Linked DNA regions of Homo sapiens: region 1 is reported to be linked to region 2. The links are microRNA targets in miRTarBase. Many come from high-throughput screens and were not tested one by one. Region 2 holds a microRNA gene; the other region holds the end of a gene's coding sequence.
The links. The annotated mature microRNA hsa-miR-2115-5p reads AGCUUCCAUGACUCCUGAUGGA and lies in region 2 at 2,600-2,621, opposite strand. An mRNA with a match to its seed (bases 2 to 7 or 8) in the 3' UTR can be bound and repressed. Matches are read on the target gene's strand: a 7mer-m8 pairs with bases 2 to 8, a 7mer-A1 pairs with bases 2 to 7 and ends in A, and an 8mer does both.

Region 1: miRTarBase lists ZNF236 as a target of hsa-miR-2115-5p. Seed matches in the 3' UTR shown: 7mer-A1 at 640-646.

Annotation. Positions count from the first base shown.
Region 1 is chr18:76,967,518-76,971,795 of GRCh38, reverse strand. It overlaps ZNF236 (zinc finger protein 236), which reads right to left. Exons shown (of 31, transcript NM_001306089.2): 31 at 1-3,581. The coding sequence ends at 3,457. Among named protein-coding and RNA genes, the nearest start is that of MBP-AS1, 11 kb to the left of the region's middle.
Region 2 is chr3:48,313,819-48,318,096 of GRCh38, forward strand. It overlaps MIR2115 (microRNA 2115), which reads right to left and starts at 2,641; the gene lies at 2,542-2,641. The region is part of intron 6 of SPINK8 (serine peptidase inhibitor Kazal type 8 (putative)); the gene reads right to left.

The sequences.
Region 1 (4,278 bases), not on the chromosome of region 2:
TTGAAATTGATTTACATGCCAAACTATTTTATCTTGAATATTTCCAAACATAAATCTGTGTGATGGTCATTTCATGTTAAAATGTGTATCTTAATGAGTTACAAATATTCTTCTAAAATGAGGAAAACCCACAGCAAGACAAGAAATCCACTTCTACTTCTAAAAATTGTGTAGCTGTGCTAACACATGCGTCTCTTGTAATAAATGTGATATGAGTTCAAAGGAAGACACAGAACACTAGCTATAATTTCAAAGATCAAGTTTCCTTAAAATATTACAACAGGGGAGTAGAAAATATGCACGAAGGAAACATCCCCTAGTTAAGTGCCAGACAAGCACTGATGTTCATGTCCCACCAGCAGAACACTGTCAGGAAGAGGAGAGTGGCATTTGATGAGCCTCCCACTGACCTGGCTGCAAGCTGTCAGATGCCATGTCATAGCATTTCCTCTATTTAGATACTTTCTAAGTGCCTCAAGTTTTTCAAAGGGGAAAAAGTAGAGCTTGATGGGGGTGGGGTAGCATTTCAATCTGCATGTTTGAAAACATGTCTTCATTTTCATCTATTGCCATTCTATGGAAACGCAGCCGCTTGGGCATTATCTAGCAGGTGGGACTCCACACATGCTACATGCCTCCTGCTTCCTCAGTACCTGCACCCCACCTTCACGTTTGGTATCTTTGCAAAGGCAATTCATTCTTTCAGCTTCAGTGCTTCATGGTTACTTGAGCACACAAGCAGGATCAAAACACTTAGGAACTTTCAAAAGGTTCCTCAATGACTGGGTGCCGTTGAATAAAGCAGCAAATGAAAGGGAACAGGAACAGTTCTGACACATGCACAGGGCACTGTGCTGACGCCCACGGCTCGCTGTCGCGGAGCCATGCCCTGATTTTGAAAGTCTGAAGCCTTTCCAGTGGACACTGCAGGGGTAAACGCCTCTGAACTTCACAGAGGTAAAGGAAAATACCACTAAAGTTTTCTCTTAAAAATATCTGAACTTGAAATTAATTTACATGCCAAACTGTTTTATCTTAAATATTTTCAAACGAAAAAAATTAATCACATTTCCTAACTTCATCTTTTATTTATAGTTATTCCAAAGCAGATATGCTATGATGAGATAGTTCTAAAAATACAGTTCTTTATCCTCAAAACCCTGGTTATACATGAGGCCTAGAAATCTCTTTTCTAGAATTTTTAAAACAACCAGTAAAATATAAAGATCAACCTGTACCCCACAAAGATTCAAGTAAAATTATGTCTTTTCAAAACCTTATATTTTCAAGGAATGTTCTGCAAAAAAGCAGCTTTTATAATTAGGAAGTAAATCGAAATAATACATAAAATGTCTTGTGTTTGCTAATAAATTGAGAAAAGACACAAAATTGAATTATTGATATTTTCTTTTTCTTTAACCAAAATAAAAGTAGGCTCTAGATTCACCTGTTAAGGCCTTAAACAGTCAATTAACCAATACAATTCACCAAACTAGCTTTCTATACAATTAGGAATTAAACAACCCCTTTTAGAGATGTCCTGAGATGACATTTAATGCTAAAATCAAAATAAATAACCCAGCAAGAACAAAAGTTTAAAATTCCAATAATTTCCACTTTGGGGATATTTTTTCACCAAAATTAATCAACATTTCTAAAATATTTCAATACAAAATTATAAAATAAAAAGTGCATTAAAAGCAGAACCTTTAAAACTCTAGCACAATTACAGTTATTCTGCATATGCGGCTACAGCCAGGTTTACACACTGACATTCAAGGAAGGAAACCTCCGGATTGGTAAGAAGTCCAGTATCACAAGCATAAGTCAAATAAGGCTTTTCTTTTTCTTAAAAAAATATACAATACACAAAGCAGTTTGGAAAAGAAGTAATATTATTTAACAATTTTCTGACTTAAATATCTTCACATAACAAAAGTTTTCATATCACCGTCAATATTACTTATATACATATGCCAAAAGTGAACAACAACAACAAAAAAATCAAAAGATGCCCTTTCAAAATAACAGTAAAATGTCTATTTCTTTAGGAATCTGAAATGAGCTCCTCTCTTAATATACAAAGTCCATACAATATTTATAATAAAACTACTCTCTTCTGAAACCAAGGAGGCAACGAGAGAAAATAAAGGCAATTATTTTTCAGGAAAAAAAAATAAAACCCAGCTTTATATGACAATGAAAAAGATATCCATTTATGAATAAAATGAATACAATACTGATCTGAAGTGCTCGTGGGGAGGTGAAACTGACGCTCTTTCTGCAATTAGGACTAGTACTTATATTTACAAAATATACTGTTCAGCCACACAGAGGCCCATATATCTATGTACATATGTATTTATATATAGAACATATAAATAATTTCAAAGGAAAAATTAACATGAAGTAAAGAACCTTCCATCTTTGGAATGCTGTAGGAATGGCGTGCACGCACTCTGCCCAGCACGGGTGGGATTTGGTTTGGGACATGTTTTATGTGGCACCATTGACGATACTAAAGAATTCCCTGAAATCAAAAATACATCTGTTTATGCACGAAGAGAAAGTCATGGGGTTTTTACGGATTCGTGGCCTTAAGCTACAGATATGCTTCTTATTTGCTGGGGTGGACAGGGCCACCGTTGCTTGCTCCTTGCAGACGGTTCTGTGGTTTCCTACCTGCGATGTATGGCTTGTGCTTCTGCAATTATGTAACCCTGGACCTGAACACAGATTGATGCGGTAAGTGTGTCGCCAGCCCGTGTGGACAGCTGAATCCTTATTGGTGGGTCAGGTTTACTCGAGTCCCCATGTTGACGCCCCAGATACTGCATTCTTGTAACTAATGATTAAACATTTGTCATGGAGAGAATTGGTCCAGCCATCTCTCAAGGTATCAGTTATATTAACTTATGGTAGACTGAAAAGAGTCCATTTTGACTAATTTTCAAAATGCACAGAGAAAAGAGTGGAAAAAACTTCCCTGTGTGTTGTAACACTTTTTTTTCTGAACTTCATGCCTCAATCTTACGCTTGCTTTGTAAGCTATGCTTCTTATAACCAGAAACATGAAGGAAAATCTGACATACTTTTTCAATGTTAGCGTTTTTGTCTTTGCTAATACAAAGAAATCACACTACAATGATAGTAAGACCCAGTTAATTGCTTCGTGAACTAGACACACTAGCCACGGAGGAGACTGAGGAGGAAACTGCCTACAGTAGTACCTGAGTTCAGTGATTTGTAGACAAAAGAGAACAATGCGGTGACACTTTTCCTAGTTTTTTTTTCCTATGAGTCTCTGAAAGACAATGATTCTTTAGATAATTTTATAGATAAAAAACTATTGTAGCATTTTTAACACTTGAAGCTTTAAAACGGAGATTCCAAGTGCTTTGCTCTTCACAAAACGTAACTTCAGAAACATTCTTAAAGGTGTACTTCCAACTCGCATCAGAAGACGTGGGTGAGGGCCTGCCACTCGCCGGCGGCCTCCTGCACCACCTCCTCCAGGTGGAGGGTCCGGCTCAGCTCCTCCCCGTCCTGCTCCGGGTGACCTGCAGACTCCTGCAGAGCTCCTGTTATGCAGACAAAGAAAACACAAGCAGCCTCAGACCTTCCAGAGCACAAAATGATTCCTATTTAAATAAAGACTTTCTGGTAGAAAGAGACAAGGAATTTCTAAAGTAATTTGCTTTTCATTCCAGTGAAAAAAGAGTAATTTGAGCTGCAGGTGAAACACCTCTGCCGGCAGGACAGTAGTTACTGTTAGGAGTATGAACGCACACACAGCACTGGTGATATGAGTGCACTCCTATGACAGCTACATTAACACAGCATCAGGAATGAGCAATAACCAACACACATGATTTCCATAATAAAAAGGAAAGCAGGAAGCACTACAGTGTAGACGTTAAAGAGAAAAAATTACCCCTTTTTCCTTCCTCAAAAACTCCCCACAATATAGTGTTCTGCCCTCGGGTTCCCTACACTGAAAGCCGTCGAGCTCCCCTCACAAAGTACCGCACCTCAAACAACCAAAGAACACCTGCAAGCCTCACAGAGCACACCACCACCTCCAACACCAAATCACAAATCTCACAGATCACACCACCTCCAACACCAAATCACAAATCTCAGAGATCACACCACCTCCAACAACAAATCACAAACCTCACAGATCACACCACCTCCAACAACCAAATCACAAATCTCACAGATCACACCACCTCCAACACCAAATCACAAATCTCACAGATCACACCACCACCTCCA
Region 2 (4,278 bases):
CCTCAAAATGATTATGTAAGTGAAAGAAGCCAGACACAAAAGATCATAGGTTGTATAATTCCAGTTATGTGAAATATACAGAATAGTAAATCTGTAAAAACAGAAAGTCTATTGCTAGTTGCCAGGAACTGTGGGGAGGAGGGAATGGGAAGTTAACTGCTTAATGGACATGAGGTTTTATTCTGGAGTGACAAAAATGTTTTGAAAGTAATAAAGGTGGCAGTTTTATAACATTGTAAATGTACTAAATGCTACCAATTTGTTCACTTTAAAATGGTTCATTTTATGTCATATGAATTTTACCTCAATCTTTAAAAATATGCATTTGCACCCATTTATAGTTATAAGAACTTTGATAAGTTGCTCCCCTCAGGTCTCAGTGTCTTCATTCAAAAGTGAGCCCTTTTGCTTGGACAGTGAAAATGGAGAAGTAAGAATCTTTAAAATTTCCTCCACGAAAGCAACAAGAACACTGGCAAAAATGGTCAGAATCAAGTTTTCCAGAATTCTGGGAATTAAAAAAAAAAAAATCAAACCATGCAGCAATCCAAGGAACATCTATTGAAGAAAAATTGCTGCTTCTCAGTAAGAATAGTGAGTTTCATGGCATTTTATCTTGCTCTGGACCCATCTGCAGCATTCCCAGTTCCATGGTAGTAATGAAAAACAACCACCCACAATCATAGTGAAAACCAGCAGCCTGGCAGCATCTGGAGGGAGAAGACTGGTGTTGGAATGCCTTCAATGCACCATTACCAGAGAATTGTCATTATTTGACCTGTCTGGGTGGTTCTCTGAAAGACCCATTTGCAAAGCTTTTATTTGACCATACTCAAACCTCTCTTGGTGCAAACAGCCTTTTCCCTGGGAAAATTTGTTGAAAACAATCAGAGGCAACTGTTTAACATCATGGCTGCTGCACAGTGTGTAACAGTTGTGAAAAACAATAGGTTAACCAAGAGCTTAAAAGTAAGTTAGGCAATGAGATGTCCATAGGAGGTTTTGAAAAGCTCTAACATGTTACTGGAAATACAGAAGGCCTTGCAGCCAGTGTAAGGCTTTCTGCATGCTCAGAAAAGACCAGAGAAAGTCCCAACATCTCATCTCTAACTAATCTTGTGGGTCTGTGCAAACATCCAGTGACCACTAAAGTGTAGCTTTAAACTGCCTGGTTGAGTAGAGACATGCCTCAGTGCACACACAAAGTTTTTGTTGTCAAAGACTGGGAGATTTATTGGTTCCAGCCATTTAAGGAAATTTTTTTCCAATCATTAGCTGATAATAAGATAATGAGTAGGACCAGATCAATGGCCATACATGACAAAAAATGCATACTTTACAGGATTATTTCAGAAGTCACTAAACTAACACATGGCAACAACAACAAATAACAGCAACAAACCTTGGATAGAGGTGAGAATCTGATTTCCAGAGTTGCCACATTATATTATTCAAAATATTCAATTTTCAACAAAATAGTCATGGCACGTACAAAGGAAAAGAAAGTATGGCTCGCATATAGGATAAAAGTCAGTCAATGGAATCTGTCACTGAGGAAGCCCAGATGTTGGACTTACAAGACATTTTAAATCAGCTATTTTACTTATGTTTAAAGAACTGGGCCGGGTGTGGTGGCTCACTCCTGTAATCCTAACACTTTGGGAGGCTGAGGCAGGTGGATCACTTGTGGTCAGGAGTTCAAGACCAGCCTGACCAACATGGTGAAATCCTGTCTTTACTAAAACTACAAAAATTAGTGGGGCTTGATGGCACAAGCCTGTAATCCCAGCTACTTGGGAGGCTGAGATAGGATAGTTGCTTGAATCCAGGAGGCAGAGGTTGCAGTGAGCCGAGATCATGCCACTGCACTCCAGCCTGGGTAACAGAGTAAGACTCCATCTCAAAAAAAAAAAAAAAAAAAAAAAAGAACTGAAGGAAACTGTATGTAAAGAACAAAGAACTAAAGGCAAGTATGAGAATGATGTCTCACCAAATAGCGAATATCAATAAAGAGACAGAAAAAATTTTCCAAGAACCTGAATAAAAATTCTAAAGTTGAAAATTACAATGACCTAGAATGAAAAATTCCCTGGAGGGGCTCATATAAGATTTGAGCAGACAGAAGAAAGAGTCAAATGTGCTTGAAGATAGACCAATGAATAGTAACCAGTTTGAGGAAAAGAAAGAAAAATAATTATGAAGAAAAAAGAACAAAATGGGTTAAAATGCCTCACATAACCAATAAGATAAAACTCAATTCAAATTGGGAAAAAAATGAATATAGCCACAGAGAAGTGTGGGACACTGTCAAGGGCATCAACATATACATAAAGGGAATCCCTCAAGGAGAGGAGAATACTTGGAAAAATAATGGCTGAAATTCCCCAAGTTTGATGAAAAACTTCATCCAGTAAGTTCAAAAAACTTACAATAGGATGCATTCTAATAGAGCCACACATAGACAAATCATTATAAAATTGCCAAAAGACAAAGGCAAAGAGAGAATCCAAAAAGCAGAAAGGGAGAAGTGAATATCACATGTAAATGATCCTCATACTGCTTCTAGCCTCCATGAATTCTGATGAATTCATGTGATTCCTCCATCAGGAGTCATGGAAGCTGGAAGCAGTGGGATGACAGTCAAAATGCTGAAAGAAAATGAGAGGTGGCCAGGCACGGTGGCTCACACCTATAATCCCAGCACTTTGGGAGGTGGAGGAGGGTGGACTGCTTGAGCTCAGGAGTTCAAGACCAGCCTGGGCAACATGGTGAAAACCTGTCTCTACCAAAAATACAAAAACAAATTTAGCTGAACATGGTGGGGTGTGCCTGTAGTCCTAGCTACTCAGAAGGCTGAGGTGGGAGGATCACTTGAGCCCAGGAGGTCGAGGCTGCAGTGAGCCACAATCATGCCACTGCACTCCAACCTGGGTGACAGAGTGAGACCTGGTCTCATAAATAAATGAATAAATAAAAGAAAAATAAAAAAAGAAAATGACAGTCAACCAAGAATTCTATGCCCACCAAACTATTCTTCAGAAAGAAAGGTGAAATTAAGATATGTCTAGATAAAGAAGAATTGAGGCAATTTGTTGCTAGCAGACCTACAAAATACTAAATAGTCCTTCAGGCTAAAATGAAAGGATCATAAGCAGAAACTTGAATTCATGTGAAGAAATAAAGAGCCAGTTAAAGTAACTATATAGGAAAATAATAGACAGTATAAACATATTTTTGTTTGTAAATCTTTCTCTCCTAAGAGGCAACTGCATAAAACAATTATAAATCTGTGTGAATGGGTGTACAATGAATAAAGCTGTAATTTGTATAACAAAAACAGTTCAAAGAAGGATGGGGAGAATGGAGCTATTTAAGAACAGCATTTTTTGGCTGGGTGTAGTGGCTCATGCCTGTAATCCCAGCACTTTGGGAGGCCGAGGCAGGCTGATCACCTGAGGTTAGGAGTTTGAGACCAGCCTGGCCAACATGGTGAAACCCCATCTCTACAAAAATACAAAAATTAGCTAGGTGTGTTGGTGTGCGCCTGTAATCCCAGCTACTCGGGAAGCTGAGGCAGGAGAATCACTTGAACCCAGGAGGCAGAGGTTGCAGTGAGCCGAGACCACAGTATTGCACTCCAGCATGCGCAACAAAAGTGAAACTACATCTCAAAAAATAAAAAAAAAGGAGCATTTATTTATTTATTTATTTATTTGAGACGGAGTCTCACTTTGTCACCCAGGCTGGAGTGCAGTGGCGCGATCTTGGCTCACTGCAAGCTCCACCTCTCAGGTTCATGCCATTCTCCTGCCTGAGCCTCCTGAGTAGCTGGGACTACAGGCACCCGCCACCACGTCTGGCTAATTTTTTGTATTTTTAGTAGAGATGGGGTTTCACCATGTTAGCCAGGATGGTCTCTATCTCCTGACCTCCTGATCTGCCCGTCTCAAAAGAACTTTGCTCTGTTGCCCAGGCTAGAGTGCAGTGGCACGATCATGGCTCACTGCAGCCTTGAACTCCTGGGCTCAAGCAATCATCCTGACTTCCAAGTAGCTAGGACTACAGGCAGGTGCCACCATGCCTGGCTAATTTTTTAATTTTTTTTTGTAGAGTCAGGGTCTCGCTATGTTGCTCATGTCTCAAATCCCTAGGCTCAAGCAATCCTTCTGCCTCAGCTTCCCAAAGTGTTGGGATTACAGGCTTGAGCCACCCCTCCAGGCAAAAATATTTTTTAAAATTTTTGTAATTAAGTTGGTATTAATCCAAATTAGATTGGTA